Linked DNA regions of Homo sapiens. The protein of the gene in region 3 purifies or fractionates together with the protein of the main gene of each other region. This does not show direct contact. Each region holds a gene or a part of one and is shown on either strand. Other genes may lie near its edges.

What was found.
Region 1: the proteins of XPR1 (region 3) and UTRN purify together in Homo sapiens (affinity purification with mass spectrometry; 2 studies listed by BioGRID and IntAct, with this or other methods). This does not show direct contact.
Region 2: the proteins of XPR1 (region 3) and MYORG purify together in Homo sapiens (affinity purification with mass spectrometry; 2 studies listed by BioGRID and IntAct, with this or other methods). This does not show direct contact.

The regions. Positions count from the first base shown.
Region 1 is NC_000006.12:144,847,676-144,854,845, reverse strand, and holds the end of UTRN (utrophin), read right to left. Parts: intron 3,858-7,170; coding exon 3,849-3,857; 3' UTR 1,812-3,848; downstream 1-1,811.
Region 2 is NC_000009.12:34,366,899-34,375,868, reverse strand, and holds part of MYORG (myogenesis-regulating glycosidase), read left to right. Parts: intron 1-2,862; 5' UTR 2,863-2,925; coding exon 2,926-5,070; 3' UTR 5,071-8,970.
Region 3 is NC_000001.11:180,823,046-180,832,015, reverse strand, and holds part of XPR1 (solute carrier family 53 member 1), read right to left. Parts: intron 7,264-8,970; coding exon 7,073-7,263; intron 6,852-7,072; coding exon 6,672-6,851; intron 1-6,671. UniProt on the Homo sapiens protein: Inorganic ion transporter that mediates phosphate ion export across plasma membrane.

The DNA.
Region 1 (7,170 bases), on a different chromosome or scaffold from region 3:
ACATTGGTCAACAGCCAATCAGCTCCCAGACCTGGGTGCAACCCAGCCAGGATCAGCAGAGCCCTCAAGTGATCCAAAGCTGGCCACAAATGTGTGAGCAAGTCTAACTGAGATCAGAAGAGTCTGCCCAGAGTAGCTGAACCCCATATACCATGAGCTAAATAAATTCTTATTATTAAGATTTTATGGCTCCCATGCAGCATGACTGTGGCAATAGATAACTGATACCATAGGCAGTGGATGCGATGTAATTGTGATTATCTCCTGCTGTCTGTAGCAGCCTCATTCTGGTTACTTAATTAACCTCACAAAAACACAAGCTGACATTGTATGTCAGTGAAGCTTTTGGATCCTACTCATAGGTTTAAGTAGTAGCGTTAGTGGTGGTTTACTGTATTATCATTAAATTCTCCACTAATGAATTTAGAAAGGCCTTTGAAAAAGCTGGCATACTGAAACAGTGAATGTGGGTGGGAGAAAAGATACACAGGAGCAAACTACAAAGATTATCTGTCTGTCTATCTCTATCTATCTATCTATCTATCATCTATCTATATCTATCTATCATCTATCTATCATCTATCTATCTATCTATCTATCTATCTATCTATCTATCTATATCTATCATCTATCATCTATCTCTATGCCTTCACAGTATATATAGTATACTGTGCCTTGATTGTAACATATATATTATATATATATGTGATATATAACAACTTGAAGGCACAGTATACATCTTTATTCTATTTTGTGTTGCTATAACAGAATACCACAGATTGGGTAATTTACAAAGAAAAGAAATTTATTTCTCAGCGTTCTGGAGGTTGGGAAGTCCAATATCAAGGTGCCAGCATCTGGTAAGGCCTGTCTTGCTGCGTCATCCTATGGTGGAAGGTGACAGGGCAGAGAACATGCAAGAGAAAGTGAGAGAACCCAACGTGCTTTGGTAATAAACCCACTTGAGATAGCAAACACACTTCTGTGATGACATTAATCCATTCATGACCTCTGACCTCATGATCCAATCACTTCTTAAAGGTCCAACCCCTCAACACTATGGAATCGGGGATTAAATTTTCAACACATGAACTGTGGGTGACACATTCAAACCACAGCAGTATGAAAGCAAAACTTGTTCATTTGTTCGCACTTCTATTTTCAGCTACCTAGTCAACAAGTTGCTGGAAATCAAGTGTTTTTTCAGGAATGCTTAATGTCAGCATTACTTAGTGGTACACAGGATGTTTAAAATGTTTGTTCATCAGAATGTATCAGTTTTCTTTATTTTAACAAATTATATTTTAGATGATTTTTCTAGTTCATAGACAGCTTTTAATTTTAGAATAAAGCAACATGATTCTCAACATTGTTTCCCACTGAATGGCTTCAGAAATTGATTAAACCTACTAGAGTGGTTAAAATCCAGTGTACGGATAAAAAGCATACAGTATTTGAGAGCATGAAACTAAAAGTACATTTGAAAGGAACTTAATGTCAACAGCATCTAGTTATTAAAACACTCAACAGGTTTTATGTACACATTTTTACATCCAATATTACTTTTCTCTATCAATAAACCTTCTATCTGGAAAATAAATTGAGAATCATATAATTATATGTATGTGTAAGAGATGGGGAGAGAGAGAGAATGAGAGCAACAGGAGACTGTATTAGTGTGTATGAGAGAAACTGCAGGAAAAAATGTAGATGTATCAGGACACAGGCTATCTCTATATCTTGTTTTCATAAATGTGCATTCAAAACTCACATTCTATCAGTGAATCCAGCTGAAGAATATCAAAGTCATCTTGTGTTAAAATTACTTTTATTCAGGATGAAAAATACAATATGTAACCAGATTAGATGATAGTCTGTGATTAGTTCTTTACCACATATTTCAAAAGAACTACATACTTACTTCCCATTGTTACTGCAATATATTTCTTTTTATTTATTATTACTTAGAAGGTTACAATGTAGTGTTTTACGTAGCTTTTCTTTAATAGCAGATAGAGGACATTTTGCATACAAATACAGGCAGAAAAAAAATTAACACATGACTTTTTAAAGTAAGAACAAGGAAGACACCAAATCTACAACTTGGAGTTGAGAGCTCAGGGAATTGTTTTTTCTTTAAATAGGTGCTTTCTTGGGTATGACATGGCCTGATAAAAGCTCTAGACTTTGCAGACTGCAGCAGCATAAAGCAGTTTCCAATGCAATGGATGAAGATGGATCTGAGGTAGAAAGGTGGTCATGGCTTTCCTTTTTATATAAAACAATTTTCTTCTTTTCAAAATATCTCTGCTGCAAATAGACACCCTTGCCCCCCAACCCACCCAACCTATTCTAAAATAATAGCAATTTCTAACTTTAAGCCTCCTTCTGGCCAGATCCCAGCTAAAGAGAACCCAAAGTTAAAATGTCTTTATGTTTTTATGTCTTTAGGTTTGAATCAAAACATATTATTTTCACCTTTTTTTGGTTCCTCTACATTTGCTAATTAAGTAACATGTTTAAACTGAATCAATTAAATGTTAAATCAGAAGCTAAACCAAAATACATAATTGAATGCACTCAAAAAGATGTAGGTGGAGGTACCATCACCTAAGCATTAATTTCATTCTTCTGTAGAAGCAGTGACATAGACTTTTGATAAACATTCTTTCCAAATATATTGATCAAGTGAAGGGTATAAAAACATCTGATCTTTCACCCGAAAGGTAAAATAAGCCGTGCACTAAATGTGTGTCTGCTTTCAACAAGAAAACAACTAGGAGTTTCAAGAACTATTAAGGACTTGAAAATACAAAACAACAATAAAATTCTCTTTGAAGGGAACCAAAGACAATGATGTGTTCTGGTATCACAATAGGTAAAGGTCTGCTGTGCATGTAATGATGAAAATCAAGACATGGGAACTAGGAAAGGTTGTACTAAATTTTGTTTCTGTGTCAAAATGAAAATATGCTCAAGTGGGCAACCTTTGGTAATATGATCTTTGAGATTATTATAATGTAGTCTTCTTTATCAAATAGATTAAGACATAAAATAAATAATTAATTCCTACTTATATAAAAAGGGAATAAAATGCAGGAAAAATATCCCAAAAGAAATGCCATTTAGGCTTATAGGATTTTTATTACGGTTATCCAAGTGGTCAGCAAAGAAGTAAGTGGGCAACGTCAAATAAAGTTAAACGGCATACACAGGGCTGTAGCTTAAACCATATGTGTGTATATATAAGATATTTGATTGAAATTTATGAATTTATTAATGTGGCCAAATCACGGAAACAAATACATGGATCTATTTGGGATCTAGTTGGTTATATGGCTGATAAACATATGGCTGATAAATTATAAATAACCAAAACATTGTGGTAAAAGAGTCAAAGAAAAAATGAAGTAATTGTGCAAGGTTAATATGAACAGCAGAAGGAATGTAAAAATGTAAAGTGGTCTTCTAATTCTTATGTAAGCTTTGTCATAGTTATTAAAAAGACGGTATCATATTAGAAAGCCCCCACCCACTTTCCCAATGCTGTATACATTATACAAATCCGTGACAAATGTATTACCATTTCCAAATACCTCTCTGTTCATTAATTTACACTTGCATAGAAAGGGAAGAAGAAAACAATAATATATGGTTATTATAAAAACAAAATATCCATTTCTCTTTGGATAGTCAGTGTTTTACTCTTTCAGTAGAACACACAGTCAGCACTCAACATCGTGGGCCAAGGAGCCATGGAGCTTCTGATTTAATGGAACTTGGAATTGGCATTTGCTGAAAAGGGCAACACTGTACGTCAGGAAACATTGGTTGGCCGGATGAATACTTCACATTGCCTATGGGAAGGGAAAATAGCACTGTCAGAAATTTGCACAAAACATTACAGGAAGCAGAGATCTGTCAATTCTTCAAGAAAATAAAAGTGCTTCTTTCAAGAGTCTTAACTCTACTGTGACTTTTGCTTCCTGCAATGAGGTCCCTCCCTCTCATGCTGAAGTTACCTAGTCTGCTTTCTATCACTGCAGCTGATTTAGAGGGAAGTCTGAAAGTCTTTTCTCTTGGCCAGGCTGGAAGCAAAGTTAAAATGGAGAGGACTTCATTTCTTTCTGCTGAAGGTACCAATGGTGAGCGAATGAGGCTGGTGAAAATATCCCATGTCTTCCTGGGGGACTGTGGGAGGTCATCTGTAGAGGGGGTACCCTAACAATGCCAACCATCTTGATCCCAAGCTGGAGTCCAGAGAAGAGGAAGGCAAGGCAGGAATCATAACCCAAGGGTGTTTAGTGGTGCCAGTTAAAGTTAAATGTCCCAGGTCAGAGACAATATAAATCCAGGCCACACTCATGGAAGTGGTATCAACCTTTTGAAGGGAAGGTCAAACATTTGGTCTTCTAAAAGGATTTTGAAATTAGAAAAAAATAAAAAAAAAGTGCTAAAATGAAATCATCCAAACTGGTCCATGCCTCATAAATCATAAAAGGCCTTTCTGGACCCTCAGGAAAGATATTCCATCTGTCTTTACACCTTATTTTATGGGGGACTTTATCCTGCTCCCTGGAAGCATGTTCCTAATGAAGCCACTGGAAAAACTGCCCACGGAGCCCCTCCTTTTCCCAGGTATGCTGAAAGCAGCAAACTCATTTGACTCTGGCCTAGAGCCCATTCTCCATGACTATTCAAATTTGGATTCTTCAGACACTTGCTTCTCCATTTTGAACATTTGATTGCCATGTTAGAGGGAGCAAAAATTCAGCAAACACTGATGGGTTCCAGGCATTGTACTGAGGGGAGGCCCTCCTGTGAAGCAGGTGTGGAAGATATCTCAGCCAGGCAGCCTCATTCAATTGTAATATGAGGTAAGTGCCGGCCACAGTAAATTCAAAGAAGTGGTTTGAGGACAGAGAAGGGGAGAGATTAACCCCATATGAGAAAGGAACATTTTGTTACATATTAATATTGATAACTGAAACTCTGGCGCTGATTCATGTTAAATATAAAGCCAAGAGGATTTTTGAATTGTGCCTATATACTCCATTATCCTTGAGAATGAGATGTGTCTATTAATTGGACACACAATACTGCTCATTTTAGGTGTCAGAATTCTAAAAATTTAAGATCATGCTATGTAAATATTAGCCCAACCCTCCAGGTGAAAATATATACTTTTCATGAATTTCCATTCGACCCAAGACATGAAAAAATGAAGAAAAGAGAAGAGCAGGAAAAAACACATGGAAAGGGAAGGAAGAAAATGGGAAAGGGGCCTCTTGTATTGAGTTACATGTTTGCTCCATCCACTAAGTTGCTGTACAACTGGGAACCATTTAGCTCTTTGTAAACTCAATTTCTAAAATCTAGAAACAGAGTAGGAGGAGAAGGCCTCCTCAGATAATTTTCTGCTTTAAATTCTGAGCACTTGTATTATATCTGAGGATTTTAAAAGATTCTCTCTTCCCTCCTTGCCTTTGTCACTCACAGCCTCATTCCACCTGGGGACCATCAGGACTAACCTCTTTGTACCCTTTATCCCTAATTTTAATGGGCCACCCTAAAAAGCTCTAGACTCCTGGTTGCCCTTCCATCACCTGTATTCTAGTCATATAGAGATCTGCATACCCCTTTTTGTGACCCTATGCCTCACTCTTCCTAGCTCTTGAAACCTGTCCTATAGGTCATGTGGCCTGTGATCCGCAAAACCCATGTTCCCAAACCCTTCTCTGAATGCTGCCTGCATCTACTTGCTCTAATCAATATCTGCATCTACCTGAAGACACAGCTTCCCTCATAACCCTCTCACACAGCACTTCCCCTCCCCATTCTCCCCCATTCCTCATACACTGCATGAGTCTTCCTTGGTCCTCATTGGGGCCTCTGGGGTATCTTCTTTCTCCTCTCCCTAAAAACACCCAGCTTTGAATCTCATATCATCAGACTATATGACTCCATTATGCAGTCATCTACTGACTCCGTAGGTCATGTTCCTTCACTTCTTGAAGTAAAAAATGGCTCAAAGTCCCCTACTCTAAAGCCATTTTTAAATGTTAGTGATTTCAACACCCATGGAGATGATTCTTCCAGCACTCTGGCTTCTTGGTTCTTTAGGCTCTTTTCCTCCAATGGTCCTGTCCTCCAACCTTCTTAGCCATTCACACAAAGGTCCAAATATGGACCATTACCAATACTTGCAACCCCTCTAATTTCAGTATCATTCAACCTAGCTTCTGACAACCACCTCTACCTCCACAGCTTACTTCCCCTACAACTGCAAATTTATCCATCCTTTGACAATAGGATCCATTGATCCTCCCATCTTTATTTCTGTCTCCCACACTGGACATTTCCTCATTCCTTTCACTACTGAGCTTAAGCATCTGGTTCAATCATTATAATCACTTCTTTGCCTCTTCCCTTGAATCACTGTACTCACTTTGTCAAACCCCAACTTCAACTTTTTAAATGCCAATACTCAGCCCATTCTGGTGCCTGTGCTCATGAACGTGAATATGCCTAGAGGGCAACTTACAACCCTGCAGAATGGCCTCATGTTAAATTCATGAGTGGCACCTTTAATGCTGCTTATAGTCACACTCTATTTCCCAGGCCATCTGCTCTTCTATTCTCCAAGAAGCTATCACACATCCTCCAGTCTCTCCTCGCACTTCTGACACCTCCTCCCCAACCTCACTCCCTGCTAAAGTCCCGGCTTCCAATTCACTTAGACAACAGAAGCAAGCAGGAGAGAACACCCACAGCTCACCACACCCCTAGCCTACTTCACATACCCTTGTCTTTTAGTTAAGATCCCAGCCTCTCTTGCCAATAAGACAATCATTCAGAAGGCTCATTGTTTCAAAAAGATTAGTAAACAAGTTCATGAAAGAAAATGTTCTCCAAAGCTGCTGTGGCTTTGTGGCACATTATTACTAAAAGTATGTGATAAGAAAATGTGAATGGAAAACAAAATCTCAGGATCCCTAACTCACTATGCTAAAGGGAAAAATTAAAAGTGGGAACTGAGTCACACAAAAACTACCTTCCTAAGCAGCTACTTGCAAAGATAGAAGGCCAGTGACCTCCCTCACAAATTGCTCACAAGGAAATTTCTAAGGGTCCCCAAATCTTTACCCTAAAACAGAGTTTTGTTGAATT
Region 2 (8,970 bases), on a different chromosome or scaffold from region 3:
TGCTGTGGTGACATTTGGGACACTATCATGGTGCCTGGGGTGGGTGGGTGCCCAGGCCTGTGGGCTTCTGTCTTTCATCAAAGAACTTCAGATCCCAGAAAATTAAGATTCTCAAAACATAACTGTCGGAAAGGGCTTTTGAATCCACCTTGGTGGCCTCTTCCTGCCTCCAGGGCTCATGAGATAGGCTGACTTCATATGAAAGTTTTGAGGATGAGGAAGTCTCTCTCCTCTTCAGATACTGACCCTCTCTCTCCTTATTTCCTTGGTGCCCAGAATAGGGCTTTGGTTATCTTGAATGAATGAATATAAACTCACAGGTGTGATCTGAGCCACCTAAAGCCTTCTTTGGGTTCTGCTCAGCTTGAGGGCATCACCTAAAGGCCACTGGCTGCATTTTCCAGGAGGTGTTTTCTAAGCTGTATCTATATAGGAATGGGGAGGAAAGCTAAGTCATTGTAGACTGAGAGAAAGGGAATAAGAGTCTGTTCCAGACCAGCTAGGGCTGACAAGCTTAGGCAGCTGGGGGCAGAGGGCACTGAGAATGAGGCCCTGAGCTAGCACCGTGTGGGAAGTGCCTATGGGAGGAGCTGTGTATTGACATTTAGGATCAAATTCTGCTCCACACCTTGCATTCTTGCATGGGGGAGGTGAAAAACCTGAGTATTTCCGGCATCTCCTTGGAAGTCCCTGGGGACTTAGAGACAGACACTGGCATCTGGGAGGAGGCTAATTACTGTTTGCTAGTCTCCTTCTCTTCTTCCCCCGAGCTGGAGCAGTTGGGCAACCAACTGGCTGGCTGTGTGTATGCCCGTGTGTGCACCTGGGTGGTGCTATTTCTTTGTTGGACTCTGCTCTGAAGCCTGGGACAGGAACGGTCAGTGGCCTTGAGTGGCAGAGTAGGACACACCTCTTCCCCTGAGCCTGTGTTTCCCTGTAGTCATATCTGTATTTTTTTTTTTTTTTTGAGATAGGGTCTCACTTTGTCACCTAGGCTGGAGTGCAGTGGCACAATCTTGGCTCACTGCAGCCTTGACCTCCTGGGCTCAAGCGACCCTCCCACCTCAGCCCCCCAAGTAGCTGGGACTACAGGTGCACACCACCATGCCTGGCTAATTTTTTTTTTTTTTTGTATTTTTGGTAGAGACAGGGTTTCAACATGTTGCCCAGGCTGGTCTCAAACTCCTGAGCTCAAGAGATCTGCCCTCCTTGGCCTCCCAAAGTGCTAGGATTACAGGCATGAGCACCGTGCATGGCCTCATATCTGGATATTTAGCATATAGTGTGTCAGAGTTTATGTGTGTTAGTGGTAGTGGTGGGTGTCTGATCCCTGGAGAGCAGGTAGGTGGAGGAGGTGCGCTGGGCCAAGCTAGGTGGGTGAAATCTCCTGAAGCAGGTGGCCTAAAGGATTTAGGTTGGGGAAGGAACGAGCTTGGTAATCACAAGATAGGCTTGGCTGGAAATGGAATCAGAATGGTAGCTGAGAACACATCATGCCTGGAGCCTCCAGTGCAAAGCAAACACTTTTAAATTTCATCATGGAAGCAATGAGCAGCTCTCGAAGCTAGGGATAGATATGGTTTGATAAGTGCTTTAGAAAGATCACTATGGTTGCCGTGATCAGAAGGCACTGGTGAGAAAGAAGTTAGAGTCAGAGAGGCCTGTTGGGGGAAGCGTTTGGTAATACAGGGGAGAAGTGACAGTGCCCAAACTATGACAGAAACAGGACAGTGGGTGAAACAGAGCGAGGAAGTAGCTGGCCCACAGATGTGGTGCCAGGAGCAAAGCAGGAAGGCAGGCATGGAAATGGATTTGGTGATGGATGATGGCTGAGAGCAGGGTGAGTTTGAGGGCAAAGAGAAGCAGATGTGAGAAACAACTGGCCCCCCATGCCAGGCTCCTGCCCCAGGCCCTAATGTCTGAACCCAACTCTACCTCCCTCCAAACCAGGCCCTGGGACTAAGTCTGGCTTTGGGTGTCTTCTTCAATCTCCAGACTTCATCAGGCTTTTGACTCAGGATAAAAACACATCCCTGAGCTGTTCTCCCTTCCTCCCTCCTCTCCCCCTCTGGGGACAGGGAAGCTAGCCTACCGCCCTGTTAAAAGTCTCAAGGGGGACTGGGCGAGGTGGCTCACGCCTGTAATGCCAGCACTTCTGGAGGCTGAGGCAGGTGGATCACTTGAGGTCATGAGTTCGAAGCCAGCCTGACCAACATGGTGAAACCCTGTCTCTACCAAAAATACAAAAATTAGCTAGGTGTGGTGGTGTGCGCCTTTAATCCCAGCTACTCGGGAGGTTGAGGCAGGAGACCCGCTTGAACCCAAGAGGCAGAGATTGCAGTGAGCTGAGATCATGCCACTGCACTCCAGTCTGGGTGACAGAGAGAGACTCCATTTCAAAAAAAAAAGTCTCAAGGAGCTGGCTGGACAATACCCCCTCTCCCACCCTGACCATCCACACCTCTAGGAGAGCAGGACTTTTCTAGTTCCTTTCCCGTCTCTTCAGCCCGAACGGCCCCATGTGTGATCTGGGGAGGCCTGGCTTATCCTGTGATCCTGGAAAGCTTCCTGACCCTCTCAGGGTTTGTTTCTCCACTAGGAAAATGAGGATGGGTGCCATCTCCCAGTCACATGGGCCGCTCCCCAGTCACAGAGTCCTAATTTGGGCAAGCATTAGGTCCCATGAGAAAGGGTGGGTTAGGCACAGATTGTCCTGGTAAGGGTCTCACCTTTGCCACTCTTCAAGCCCTCAGGTTCCAGTATTCATCTTCCCAAAGTATACACCTCCTCTTAGCTTGCGGCAGCAAATGGAAATATCATGGGATGAGATAGCTCAGTTCCATCTCTGTCTCCTCCTTTCAGAGCAGGTTGAGATGAACTCAGTCAGATGGCCCCACGGCCCGCTCCTTTCTTAGCAGCCCACTAATGCTCCAGAACCCTCAGGAGAAGAGCCAGGCCTACCCCCGCCGCCGCCGGCCTGGCTGCTACGCATACCGTCAGAACCCCGAGGCCATCGCAGCCGCAGCTATGTACACCTTCCTGCCCGACAACTTCTCACCTGCCAAGCCCAAGCCTTCCAAAGACCTGAAGCCGCTGCTGGGCTCCGCGGTTCTGGGGCTGCTGCTTGTGCTGGCCGCGGTGGTGGCCTGGTGCTACTACAGCGTCTCCCTACGCAAGGCGGAGCGACTTCGCGCGGAGCTGCTGGACCTGAAAGCTGGCGGCTTCTCCATCCGCAATCAGAAGGGAGAGCAGGTCTTCCGCCTGGCCTTCCGCTCCGGCGCGCTGGACCTTGACTCCTGCAGCCGCGATGGCGCCCTGCTGGGCTGCTCGCTCACGGCCGACGGGCTGCCGCTGCACTTCTTCATCCAGACTGTGCGGCCCAAGGACACGGTCATGTGCTACCGCGTGCGCTGGGAGGAGGCAGCGCCGGGCCGGGCCGTGGAGCACGCCATGTTCTTGGGCGACGCGGCGGCCCACTGGTATGGTGGCGCCGAGATGAGGACGCAACACTGGCCCATCCGCCTGGATGGCCAGCAGGAGCCCCAGCCGTTCGTCACCAGCGATGTCTACTCCTCCGACGCCGCGTTTGGGGGCATCCTCGAGCGCTACTGGCTATCTTCGCGCGCGGCCGCCATCAAAGTCAATGACTCAGTGCCCTTCCACCTGGGCTGGAACAGCACGGAGCGCTCGCTGCGGCTTCAGGCGCGCTACCACGACACGCCCTACAAGCCACCCGCCGGCCGCGCCGCAGCGCCAGAGCTGAGCTACCGAGTGTGCGTGGGCTCAGACGTCACCTCCATCCACAAGTACATGGTGCGTCGCTACTTCAACAAGCCGTCAAGGGTGCCAGCACCCGAGGCCTTCCGAGACCCCATTTGGTCCACATGGGCGCTGTACGGGCGCGCCGTGGACCAGGACAAGGTGCTGCGTTTTGCCCAACAGATCCGCCTGCACCACTTCAACAGCAGCCACCTGGAAATCGACGACATGTACACACCTGCTTATGGCGACTTCGACTTCGATGAGGTCAAATTCCCCAACGCCAGCGACATGTTCCGCCGCCTGCGCGACGCCGGCTTCCGCGTCACGCTCTGGGTGCACCCTTTTGTCAACTACAACTCGTCGCGCTTCGGCGAGGGCGTGGAGCGCGAGCTGTTCGTGCGCGAACCCACGGGCCGGTTACCTGCGCTGGTGCGCTGGTGGAACGGCATCGGCGCGGTGCTAGACTTCACGCACCCAAAGGCCCGCGACTGGTTCCAGGGACACCTGCGGCGGCTGCGCTCTCGCTACTCCGTGGCTTCCTTCAAGTTCGACGCGGGCGAGGTCAGCTACCTGCCGCGGGACTTCAGCACCTACCGGCCGCTGCCGGACCCCAGCGTCTGGAGCCGGCGCTACACTGAGATGGCGCTGCCCTTCTTCTCGCTGGCGGAGGTGCGCGTAGGCTACCAGTCACAGAACATCTCCTGCTTCTTCCGCCTGGTGGATCGCGACTCTGTGTGGGGCTACGACCTGGGGTTGCGCTCACTCATCCCCGCGGTGCTCACCGTCAGCATGCTGGGCTACCCATTCATCCTACCCGATATGGTGGGCGGCAACGCCGTGCCCCAGCGGACAGCCGGCGGCGATGTGCCCGAGCGCGAGCTCTACATTCGCTGGCTGGAAGTGGCCGCCTTTATGCCGGCCATGCAGTTCTCTATCCCGCCCTGGCGCTACGACGCGGAAGTGGTGGCCATCGCGCAGAAGTTCGCCGCCCTGCGGGCCTCGCTTGTGGCACCGCTGTTGCTTGAGCTGGCGGGCGAGGTCACCGACACGGGTGACCCTATCGTGCGCCCCCTTTGGTGGATTGCGCCCGGCGACGAGACAGCTCACCGTATCGACTCGCAGTTCCTTATTGGGGACACGCTGCTTGTGGCCCCGGTGCTGGAGCCAGGCAAGCAGGAGCGCGACGTCTATTTGCCCGCCGGCAAGTGGCGCAGCTACAAGGGTGAGCTTTTCGACAAGACGCCGGTGCTGCTCACCGATTACCCGGTCGACCTGGATGAGATCGCCTACTTTACCTGGGCGTCCTGACCCAGCCCAGGGCCCGGTAACCGCAAAGCCCCCAGTCTTCATGCAGACCTTGAACCCTCCGTCACACCCGCACCATGTACTCCCAGGAACCTCCCACCTCTATACCACCCATTAAGTGGCTGCTGACTTAAATGTGCTGGAACCAGCTGCTGAAGGTGGGGCCTAGGGAGGGGGCACTGAAGCAATCTCCTGCTCCAACGCACAATCCTTACTGTGCCCTTTCCACCCCCACACTCACACCAATCTGCAGAAACCTCTTCCCTGGGGTGGAAGCCAGAGAGCTTAGAGGAAAAAGGTCAGCTCTCTTCCTGTTATACATGGTTATACATGGTTGGGGTTTAAAAGCACAAAGAGAAACCTCCCCCTCCTGGCTTTCGTGGCCATCTTTGTCCATCTTAGGTGGGGACTTGATCTTATTTAAGGTCTCCAAATAGCCCCCACCACACTTAGAACGTGTGTTTTCTTAGTGTTAGAAGCCAGGCCCTGAGTCCCCAGCACTCACCTGAACTGTGGCTGATTTGGTCCCAGTCCAGCTGGGGAGGTGTTTGGCTGACAAGGAGGCAAGAGATCCCCTCCCAGGGAACAGGAGGACTGGGCTTAGCACAGAGCCATCATCATGTTCCCAATTTGTGAAGAGACTCCTAACACTGCACTAACCCATTTGTGTACATACATGGGCTCAGCCCTGGGCCAAATGTGCCTGATGGGAACAGACTTGCAGGGCCATGCAGGCCAGACTTCGTGCCTTAACTGAAGAGTGTGCGTGTGTGTGTGTGAGAGAGAGAGAGAGAGAGAAACACGCATCATGGGTCCCTGATCTATGAAATGAACACAACCTCTCTGAGGCTGGATGATCTGGAGGAAGGGGGCATGGAGCAAATTTGAGGCTCTGATTGCTGAGCCAGCCTCCTCCCAGGCGGTTTCCCCAGGACTCTCGTAGGAAATAAATAGCCCTTTCAAGATTCCTCAGCTGCCTCACCCCCTGCACATGTGCCTGGGGTGTGGCCTAGAAGGGAGTGATGTTCTTACTCTGGTGGTCTGTGCTTCTGAACACAGGCTACATGCACACACTGACAACTACCAATAAACAGACAGGGGAAGGTCTTTCATCTCAGCCATTTTCTCTTCCCCCCGCCCCCCCTTAGATGGAGTCTTGCTCTGTCACCCAGGTTGGAGTGCAGTGGCACAATCAGCTCACTGCAACCCCTCCTCCTAGGTTCAAGCGATTGAGTAGCTGAGATTACAGGCATGCATCACTATGCCTGGCTTTTTGTATTTTTTAGTAGAGATGGGGTTTACCATGTTGGCCAGGCTAGTCTCAAACTCCTGACCTAGTGATGCACCCACCTTGGCCTCCCAAAGTGTTGGGATTACAGGCATGAGCCACCACGCCAGCCATTTTCTCTTTCTAAGAAGAGCAACCTCAGCCGGAGTGAGTTTTTTCTGACTTTGCAGCTGAGTCTGGAGAAAAGTGGCATGCCAGAGCGGGTCGGTGGGAAACAGGGTGAACTTTAGCTTCCATCAACAGCTCTGGTAGCAAAACCAGTCCCCTACCCCCTAGAGAATGCATCCGTTTCCCCACCTGATATGGTTTGGCTGTGTCCCCACCTAAAACTCATCTTGAATTGTAGCTCCCATAATTGCCATGTGTTGTGGGAAGGACCCAGTGGGAGATAATTGAAATATGGGGGCAGTTTCCGCCATACTGTTCTGGTGATAGTGAATAGATCTCATGAGAGCTGATGATTTTATAAGAGGTTTCCCCTTTTGCTTAGTTCTCATTCTCTCTTGCCTGCCGCCATGTAAGACGTGCCTTTCTGTCATGCTTGTGAGGCCTCCCCAGCCACGTGGAGCTGTGAGTTCATTAAACCTCTTTTTCTTTATAAATTACCCAGTCTTGGTTATGTCTTTATCAGCACTGTGAAAATGAACCTATACAGTAAATTGGTACCAGTAGAGTGGGGCGCTGCTGTAAATACCCAAAAATGTGGAAGCAACTTTGGAACTGGGTAACAGGCAGAGGTTGGAACAGTTTGGAGGGATCAGAAGACAGGAAAATGTGGGAAAGTTTGGGACTTCCTAGAGACTTGTTAAATGGCTTTGACCAAAATGCTGATAATGATTGGGACATGAAATCCAGGCTGAGTTGGTCTCAGATAGCGATGAGGAACTTGTTTGGTACTGGAGTAAAGGTGACTCTTGCTATATTTTAGCAAAGAGACTGGCTGCATTTTGCCCCTGCCCTAGAGATTTGTGGAACTTTGAACTCGAGGGAGATGATTTAGGGTATCTGGCAGAAGAAATTTCTAAGCAGCAAAGCATTCATGAGGTGACTTGGGTGCTGTTAAAAGCATTCAGTTTTAAAAGGGAAACAGACTATAAAAGTTTGGAAAATTTGCAGCCTGATGATGAGATAGAAAAGAAAAACCCATTTTCTGAGGATAAATTCAAGCCCCCTGCAGAAATTTGCATAAGTAACAAGGAGCCAAATGTTAATCACTAAGACATGGGGAAAATGTCTGCAGGGCATGTCAGAGACCTTTGCAGCAGTGCCTCCCATCACAGGCCTGGAGGCCTAGGAGGGAAAAAATGGTTTTGTGGGCCAGGCCCAAGGTCCCCTTGCTGTGTGCAGCCCAGGGACTTGGTACCATGCATCCCAGCTGCTCTAGTCATGGCTAAAAGGGGCCAAGATACAGCTCAGGCCTTGGCTTCAGAGGGTGCAAGCCCCAAGTCTTGGCATCTTCCACGTAGTGTTGAGCCTGCAGGTGCACAGAAGTCAAGAACTGAGGTTTGGGAACCTCTGCCTAGATTTCAGAGAATGTATGGAAATGCATGTATGTCCAGGCAGAAGTTTGCTACAGGAGTGAGGCCCTCATGGAGAACCTCTGTTAAGGCAATGTGGAAGGGGAAGCCCCCACACAGAGACCCCACTGGGACACTGCCTAGTAGAGCTGTCAGAAGAAGGCCACCGTCCTCCAGACATCAGAATGGTATATCCACTGACAGCTTGCACCATGCACCTGGAAAAGCCACAGACACTCAACGCCAGCCTGTAAAAGCAACCGAGAAGTAGGCTGTACCCTGCAATGCCATAGGGGTGGAGCTGCCCAAGACCATGGGAACCCACCTCCTGCATCAGTGTGACCTGGATGTGAGACATGGAGTCAAAGGAGACCATTTTGGAGCTTTAAGATTTAACTGCCCTGCTGGATTTCAGACTTGCATGGGGCCTTTAGCCACTTCGTTTTGGCCAACTTCTCCCACTTGAAATGGGTGTATTTAGCCAATGCCTGTACCTCCGTTGTATCTAGGAAGTAACTAACTAGCCTTTGATTTTACAGGCTCATAGGTGGAAGGGACTTGCCTTGTTTCAGATGAGACTTTGGAGTATGGACTTTTGAGTTAATGCTGAAATGAGTTAAGACTTTGGGGGACTGTTGGGAAGGCATGATTGATTTTTAAATGAGAGGACATGAGATTTGGGAGGGGCCAGGGAGAGAATGATATGGTTTGGCTGTGTCCCCATCCAAATATCACCTTAAATTGTAGCTCCCATAATTGTGGGAGGGACCTGGTGGGAGATAATTGAATCATAGGGGCAGTTTCTCCCATACTGTTCTGGTGGTAGTGAATAAGTCTCACGAGATCTGATGGTTTAATAAGGGGTTTCCCCTTTTGCTTGGCTCTCATTCTCTCTTGTCTGCTGCCATGTAAGATGTGCCTTTTGCCTTCCACCATGATTGTGAGGCCTCCCAGCCACATGGAACTGTGAGTTCATTAAACCTCTTTTTCTTCATAAATTACCCAGTCTCGGGTATGTCTTTATCAGCAGTGTGAAAACAGACTAATACACCACTCCTCTACCTTCTTTATTTTCTCAGTGTGGAAAATGCCTGATGA
Region 3 (8,970 bases):
TGTTGGTGGGAGTATAAATTAGTTCAACCATTGTGGAATACAGTGTGGCGATTCCTCAAGGATCTAGAACCAGAAATACCATTTGAACCAGCAATCCCATTACTGGGTATACACCCAAAGGATTATAAATCATGCTACTATAAAGACACATGCACATGTATGTTTACTGTGGCACTGTTCACAATAGCAAAGATTTGGAACCAACCCAAACGCCCAACAATGATAGACTGGATAAAGAAAATATGGCACATATACACCATGGAATACTATGCAGCCATAAAAAAGGATGAGTTCATGTCCTTTGCAGGGACATGGATGAAGCTGGAAAGCATCATTCTCAGCAAACTAACACACAAACACAAAACCAAACACCGCATGTTCTCACTCATAAGTGGGAGTTTAGCAAAGAGAACATATGGACATGGGGAGGGGAACATCACACACTGGGGCATGTTGGGGGGTGGGGGGCAGGGGGAGGGATAACATTAGGAGAAATACCTAATGTAGATGATGGGTTGATGGGTGCTGCAAACCACCATGGCACATGTATACCTATGTAACAAACCTGCATGTTCTGCACATGTACCCCAGAACTTAAAGTATATATAAAAAAAAGAAATTCACCCATGTTATCAAAAAAAAAAAAAAAAAAAGAAAAAGAAAAGAAAATAGAAAGCAAAGAGGTGGGAAGAGTTGAATTTGAAAGCACAGAGCAGCAAAAGATAGAAGCACTGAGAGGCTCTAAAGTTAGGAAGTTTTGCTGGAGAGGCAAGTGCTATAATTTCTAGACTGTTCTCCATCTTAGCTAACTGAATACAAAACTCTTCTTTGCTTACAGAGGATAAGTAGGAAAGGATGGTACTCCATCTGAGGCATGCCTCATTATCTAACCAAAGCCACTTTCTTTTCACTAATGACATGGTAATGACTGTGTACATCTTGAAATTATACCACAAAAATCAGCCCTCTTCCCACTGTTCTGAACACATGATAAATGTATTAAATGTATTGGGCAGTAACTCATGCAGTGTATTTTCCTCAAGGCTTTATGCAAGCATTAACTCATCTTCATAACAATTCCATGAGCTAGGAACTATTCATATCCCCATTTTACAGAAGACCGACACAGACTCTTCCTAACATATTCTGTGGAAGCCTGTTTATCACTACAAAGGGAAATCTTGGCATTGCAGAGAAGGGAAGTAGGTACCAATGCAATTACCAGAAATAGGCTCAAATTGTGCAGATTGTCTTGATAAGCGCTGTGTGAAGTGAAGATGGGATGAAGGAAGCCTTAATCCTCATCCTAAAGGACCCCTTTCTATCTTATACAGTAGGAAATGTGACTCCTGAAAGAAGAAATTCTGAGTAAGTAGAAGTTTTGAGAAAATGAATCTAATCTCTAGCTCTGATTATCTAGTTATATTCATTTCATAGACATATTCTACTTGGGAATCTGTAACTCTCTTCTCAGACTTGGCTGGATCTGTCTTCTGTTTCTCTAAATATTTATTTTTATTATGTCAGGGAGATAAATGGTCACATTATGACTCAATCCTGGATGTCAACTACCTATGACGGGTACTTTCTTGGAGCTTTGGAAGCTAGACCAGGTGTCTGTGGGACATCATACAGGCTTTGAGACATTATTTTCTGGTGCTGATATACTTTCATTCCATGGCTCAGTCTCTTAACCACTCTCATAATCTTTCCATGAGTCCAACAAACCAGAGAGACAATCTATACCATTTGCAACCATAAGCGCCCGATAAAGCAAACTTTTTGTGAGGAAGAGGGGGACTGTAGGATGGTAGTCATCTATGCACGAAGAAGCTCTGGCACCAGTTTCTGTAATATTTTAAGAAACTCTAGTGTGCAGAATGGACTTAAAGGATTCAAAGTGACAGAAATATAGAATAATTTAGGATATAACACCAAAAGATCAGGAAGTCTAAATCCATCTCTAATCATGAACTATTATGAAACTGGTAGCCTAGGACAAATTTCTTTATAACTGACATGAGACAGACTATCATTACTCTCATACTCTGCCAACCCCATCCTCAAAACCTGGCTAATTCAGAAAATCTCCATAAGAGCAGAAGAGGGAGATAATGCATTAAATAAGGAAAAAAGGGATGGTGGGATGGGACTGAAAAAGGATAGGACTGACATGAAAATTTAAAAAAAAAACTGGGAAGAAGGGAAAATTTACAAAAAGAGAAAATGAAAAAAGGAAGAAAGAAGGGAGTAGTAAATGTTATATAATACAACCAATGAAGGGAAGAATATAATTACAGTCATTCATGTATTTAACAAAGACTTATCAAGTATTTATTAAATGTCAGGCACTGCGGCTTACAGGCCTTAATGATCCACAGTCTAGTTGGGCAAATAAATACATAAAGGTATAATTATAGCACCATATTATAGAGATACACACAAAATACCCTGGAAATACAGAGAAAAGAAGAAGTCACTCTGTCAGAGGCCGGGTGAGAGGGAGAGCATAAACATCATACTCAACTCACTGACATTTACACACAGTCAAATTCATTCTAGATTTATCTGATATCGCCTTCTGGGAGAGAATTCTGTAACTCACTCCTCCTTCTCTTCTTAATCTGGATAAGGCCTTTCAACTTCTCCACTTCTACCCTGTGATTTTGATTAAAGTGACAATTCCTAGAGTAACAGTATTATGAAAGCCAGAGACAATTCTGGATAGCTGATATTTTACCACCTACACAAAAAAGCCACTAAATTATTACAAAGAACATGTTAACATCCTCTTTTAAGTTAATACTGATAAATAGCTAAGAAGATGAAGTTTTAATTTCTACTTTTCATGGAGTGCAGTGGTACAATTTCAGCTCATTGCAACCTCAACCTGCTGGACTCAAGCGATCCTCCTCCCTCAGCCTCCCAAGTAACTGGGGCTACAGATGCGTGCCACCATGCCCCACTAATTTTTCATTTTTTGTAGAGAAAGGGTTTTGCCACGTTGCCCAGGCTGGTCTCGAACTCCTGGGCTTAAGCGATCCTCCCACCTCCGCCTCTCAAAGTGCTAGGATTACAGGCATGAGCTACTGTGCCTGGCCTCAAATTTGATTTTTATATTCTACTAGTTTGATCCACTAGATCAAAGTTAAACATCTAACATAAGTGACTAATAGGGCTAAGTGTTAAATGTTAGTGTTTAAGAGTACAGATTATAAACGACTGCCTGGGTTCATAACTCATCTTCATCACTTCACTGGCTATGTGACCTTAGGCAAGTTAATTAACTTCTCTGAATGTAGGTTTCTTCATTTATAAAATAGGGATTAATAGCAGCTCCAACTTGTGGGTTATTTTTAAAATTAAAATACATAAAGTAGTTACTAAATGACAACACCTCTCTATTCTTATAATAGAAATGTGTAAAATTTTTACTATAGAACTAAAGAGACTGTTGGTAAAAACTGATGTCTAAATTATGTAACAAAGGACTATAATTTAAAATTTTTAATTAGCTTACTTTTAATATAGTGAGTTAAAATTTATATTTTTGTTTAGAAAATCTGAGGCACTGTTTATGCTACCTAATTAGATTTCTGATTGAGGTAAATATAGATTTAAGGAGAGAAAGTATAACCTAATGGATGTAAATAATCTATACTAATTTGACATACAATATTCATATCAAAATAAATCAATTTCTTATAAATTTTTTTAGCTTTGTTTTTAGGAGCATAGCATATATCAATTCCATAGATTCCAATATAAATATGGATATAAATGGCACCCAGTGCCTACCATTATGACCTATGTGCTTTTCTCACTAAAAATTAAAGAAAAGGATGGGTGTGGTGGCTCACACTTGTAATCCCAGCACTTTGGGAGGCAAGGCAGGCAGATGACTTGAGCCCAGGAATTCGAGACCAGCTGGGCAACATGGCAAAACCCCATCTCTACCAAAAATACAAAAAATTGGCCAGGCACGTTGGCACACACCTGTGGTCCTAACTACTGGAGAGGTTGAGGTGGGAGGATCACTTGAACCTGGGAGGTGGAGGTTGCAGTGAGCTGAGATCACGCCACTGCACTTCAGCCTGGGCAATAGAGCCAGACCCTGTCTCAAAAAAAAAAAAAATTAAAGAAAAAAAGAAAGAAATGTACTTTTACTTTAGGATGAAGCTTTTAAAAAGCGGTATCAGAAAAACATAACTAGAGTGAACACATTCTTGTTAATTCACTAGGAATCAGTCTAAGGGTAAGTTTTCCCAGTGAGATTTAAATTAAAATAAGTCAGCAGGTCAATTAATACTAAAATTATCTACAAATGATAACACTGTTCTGTTTATAACAGTTACTACAAAAACAACAAACCACAAATATAGAAGGAAATTATTCCTTCTATATTTCAGTGTATCTGATAGTACATTTTATTATTCTATTACTGCTTATACCATTGTCAACCTATTCCATCAACAAGTCCTCATTTATTAGCAAAAACACAGCAGATGCACAAATAAATATCTACTCAATGGGCAATCATTCTGCTAATAGGAGTAACTAGTCATGCATGAATCACAGCTTGCTATTTAAACAAAGGATACACTGGGGAAATGCCCACTTAGCACACAATGTACACAACTATATTATCCTGTTACTGTAATTACGTAATCATAGTAAAACCTGAGTTTTCTGAATCTTCCAAAGTCTCATTTAAAAATAATTTTATGGCCAGGCACAGTGGCTCATGCCTGTAATCCCAGCACTTTGGGAGGCCAAGGCGGGAGGAACACTTGAAGCCAGGAGGTTTGAGACAAGCCTGGGCAACAAAGGAGACCCCCTTTTTTTTTTTTTTTTTTTTTTTTGAGAAGGAGTCTCACTCTGTCGTCCAGGCTGGAGTGCAGCAGCACCATCTTGGCTCACTGCAACTTCCACTTCCTGGGTTCAAGCGATTCTCCTGCCTCAGCCTCCTGAGTAGCTGGGATTACAGGCACGTGCCACCTCACTCGGCTAATTTTTATATTTTTGGTAGAGATGGGGTTTTGCCATGTTAGCCAGGCTGGTCTTGAACTCCGGACTTCAGGTGATCCACCCACCTCGGCCTCCCAAAGTGCTGGGACGACAGGCGTGAGCCACTGCACCTGGTTCTACAGTTTTTCTTAATAGAAAGCCATATTTTATGTCTTCAGATTAAAAAAAAATTGTTATGTTTGGCTAAGAACAAAAAAACCTTTGCTAACATAAGGGGCATACAAAAGAAAAACAATAGGAACTGCAGTTTTCAAGGACGTATACTTATAAAGTGAAAAAGAGGTGAGAAAATAGAGCAATTCTGAAAGTTTTTATAGAGATTGGTCAATTTAATCACTAATCTTTATTGTTAGCTGTAATTCATAACCTAAGAAATAATCATATGAAAGTTTTCTCAATTGATTTACTTTCTTTGTTTCTTTCTTTGTTTTTTCCTTTAGAGATAGGGTCTCAGTCTGTTGCCCAGGCTGGGAGTGTAGCGGCACTAACATGGTTCACTGCAGCTTTGACGTTCCTGGCTCAAGCAATCCTCTCACCTGAGCGTCACAAGTATCTGGGACTACAGGTGTGCACCATCACACCCAGCTAATTTTTTAATTTTTGTAAACAGGGTTTACACCATGTTGCCCAGGCTGGTCTGAAACTCCTGGGCTCAAGGGATCCACTCACCTCAGCCTCCCGAATACTGGGATTATAGGCATGAGCGACTGTACCTGGCCTCAAATGATTTTCAAAAAGAGCTGGCTCAATTTACAAGTAAACAGAAGTCCCCTTCCGGAGTTATCTTTACAGAAGAAAGCTTTACAGTTTTGCAGGAAATTTTATTTCACTGCTGAGGCTAAATGATTTTGAGATCATTAAGAGACAGGTAAAGTGGAAGAAAAAAAGAACTTATTATAAACAAGAATCAAAGTCAATTTTTCTTTTTCTTTTTTTTGAGATGGAGTTTTGCTCTTGTTGCCCAGGCTGGAATGCAATGGCACAATCGCGGCTCACTGCAACTTCCACCTCTGGGGTTCTAGCGATTCTCCTGCCTCAGCCTCCCTAGTAGCTAGGATTACAGGCATGGGCCACCACCCCCAGCTAATTTTGTATTTTTAGTAGAGACGGGGTTTCACCATGTTGGTCAGGCTGGTCTCAAACTCCTGACCTCAGATGATCCACCCGCCTTGGCTTCCTAAAGTGCTAGGATTACAGGCGTGAGCCACCGCGCCCAGCCCAAAGTCAATTTTTCAAATTAAACTTGATAATCTGGTAAGATATTCCTACTGCTTTTAGAGAACAAATCTTTCCTAAAATAAAATGTTCGGTTGATACTCACATCAACTTAACAGGAAAATAATTCTTTTACCACATTTTTTTGGGGGAAGGAAACTTACAAAGTTCTACATCTTATCACAGCTAGTTAAACGAAGTAAAAAATGTTTATAATTTACAAAATCATCTCAATATTTGGCCACCTGATACTCGATCTCAGGAGGAAAATATACGTGAGTACTTTTTCCCAGGGCCTCCACTCACATAAACTATAATGTGAACCACGGCCTCTGCAGTTGTACAACCTAGCAGCCTTGGTTTTATCTTAGAGGAAGTCAATAACCAATATGCCACTCTAAAAGTGGTACACAAGTTTCTGGACTTACCAGCAGTTTAAGCAGCCAAAACCGGGATTTATAGTAGAAAGTTTTGGTGGGGTTGATAAGGAAGAAAACCATAAATCCATAAAGGGCAAGTGGATACACATATGTGGGGATGACACTAATTGGAGCAAAGAAGCATGCCAGAAGGCTCAGGCACCACAATATCCCGAGGAATCCAGCAATCTAGTAAAGGATGGGGAAGACAGAAAGATAGAGAAAAATTGTTATTTTTACTTTTACCATTACTTAAAATATCTTTAATAAAACAAAAGTAAGAAACATGATTAGTTATTAAGCTAATAATCCTCTTCAAGTAGAGGATGGATTTAAGTACCCACTAAACCAGATAGCTATATAGCTAATGCAAACTATATTCATGAGGTGTTATGTCTTGCTTTGATTACCTCAAAGAGATGTTGATGAGACAAATTGCTTCTCGGATTAAGTTCAAAGATGAGTACATGGTTTACTCCAGCCTGTCTCCAACCATACGTGTTGATGCCCAGTAGAAAAAGGAATTCAATCAGAAGAAAGCCACCCCGATAGATTCTTATCAAGGGCCATATACTTCTATCTGTTTCAAGTTTAAATACAGCTGAAAGAATATTAAGATATTGGTCAGTTATAAAATTCATAACTTCCCTTGAATTAATAATCTTTTGTCTTCATTCTCAATGATATAGCCCTGGCATAGAAATTTTTCATAAATAAAACCTAAACCTAGATTATCTATCATCTATCTATCTATCTATCTACCTATTTATTTTTTTGAGACAGTCTCACCCTGTTGCCAGGCTGGAGTGCAATGGCGTGATCTCGGCTCACTGCAACCTCCGACTCCCTGGTTCAAGCGATTCTCCTGCCTCAGTCTCCCGAGTAACTGGGATTACAGGCACGCACCACCACGCCCAGCTAATTGTTGTATTTTTAGTACAGACAGGGTTTCACCATGTTGGCCAGGATTGTCTTCATCTCCTGACCTCGTGATCCACCCACCTTGGCCTCCCAAAGTGTTGGGATTACAGGCATGAACCACCCCGCCTGGCCAAACCTAGATTATTTTAAGAGCCTTAAAAAGTCGCCTGTGGGTTCTTTCTCGTCTTCATTTTACTCTGCAGAATGTCACTAGAATAATTTCCCAAAACTTGACTTTCAGCATGTCATCCCATTGTTCTATTAGTTTTTTAGATTACAAAGAATCATGGTGAAGTGGCTTAGAATCATGTGATCAGTTCTGTCATTTGGGGATCCGGCATGACAAAACCTCTCTTTGGCTTCATTTACTCCATTATTAAACTGGATATAGTAATATCTACCTCACAGAGTTGCCATGAAAATGAGAAGGAACAGTACACATGAAAGTAGTGTGAAAATTTAAATGTCATATAAATGACAACAGTTAATATTTACGGAATGCTTACTATGTGCTAAGCACTGTTCTCAGTATTTTTACATAGAATAATTGGTAATTCATTTAACCATCACAATGGCTCTTTGAGTTAAAAACCATTATCTCCATTTGATTAGGAAACTAGAGCACAGAGAGGTTGTCATTTGCTTAGTTACTGACCTAAGCTAGAATTTGAACCCAGTTTTGCTCCAAAGTTCATACTCTTAAGCACTACATTCTATTGCCCATTATGTCCACACAAATGTTCAATATCATTATTCTATGGCTCGCCAGTAATTATAATGTTCAAATACTTTAGATACCTTAGCCTCACAATTCAAATTCTTCATAATCTAATCACCAACTCACTTTTCCCAAACTTATCTCGCAGCACCCCTAAAATATTAACTCTTGACTCGTGATGAATTTTATTATCCTTTTAATAAGTTTGTTTTTCACATTTACTTATGTTGTTCCCTCTACTTAAAATGGCCTTGTTCTTTCTCTCCACTAATTCAAATTCTACTTACTATTTAAGAGACAGATCCTGGATCCTTACCTGTTCATAAATTCACTGAATCAACATATTTCGTTTTAAGCCCACTGTATGAGAAACACTTCCATTTGGTCTAATGATTTTCCAAATAACTATAAAATTTATTGACAGTACTGCTCATTTGGAATTTAATTACATACAAACTTTTGTTTTTTTTTTTTGAGATGGAGTCTTGCTCTGTCGCTCAGACTGGAGTGCAGTGGTGTCATCTTGGCTCACTGCAACCTCTGCCTCCCGCGTTCAAGCGATTCTCCTGCCTCAGCCTCCTGAGTGGCTGGGATTACAGATGCGTGACGCCACACCCAGCTAATTTTTTGTATTTTTAGTAGAGACGGGGTTTCATCATGTTGGCCAGG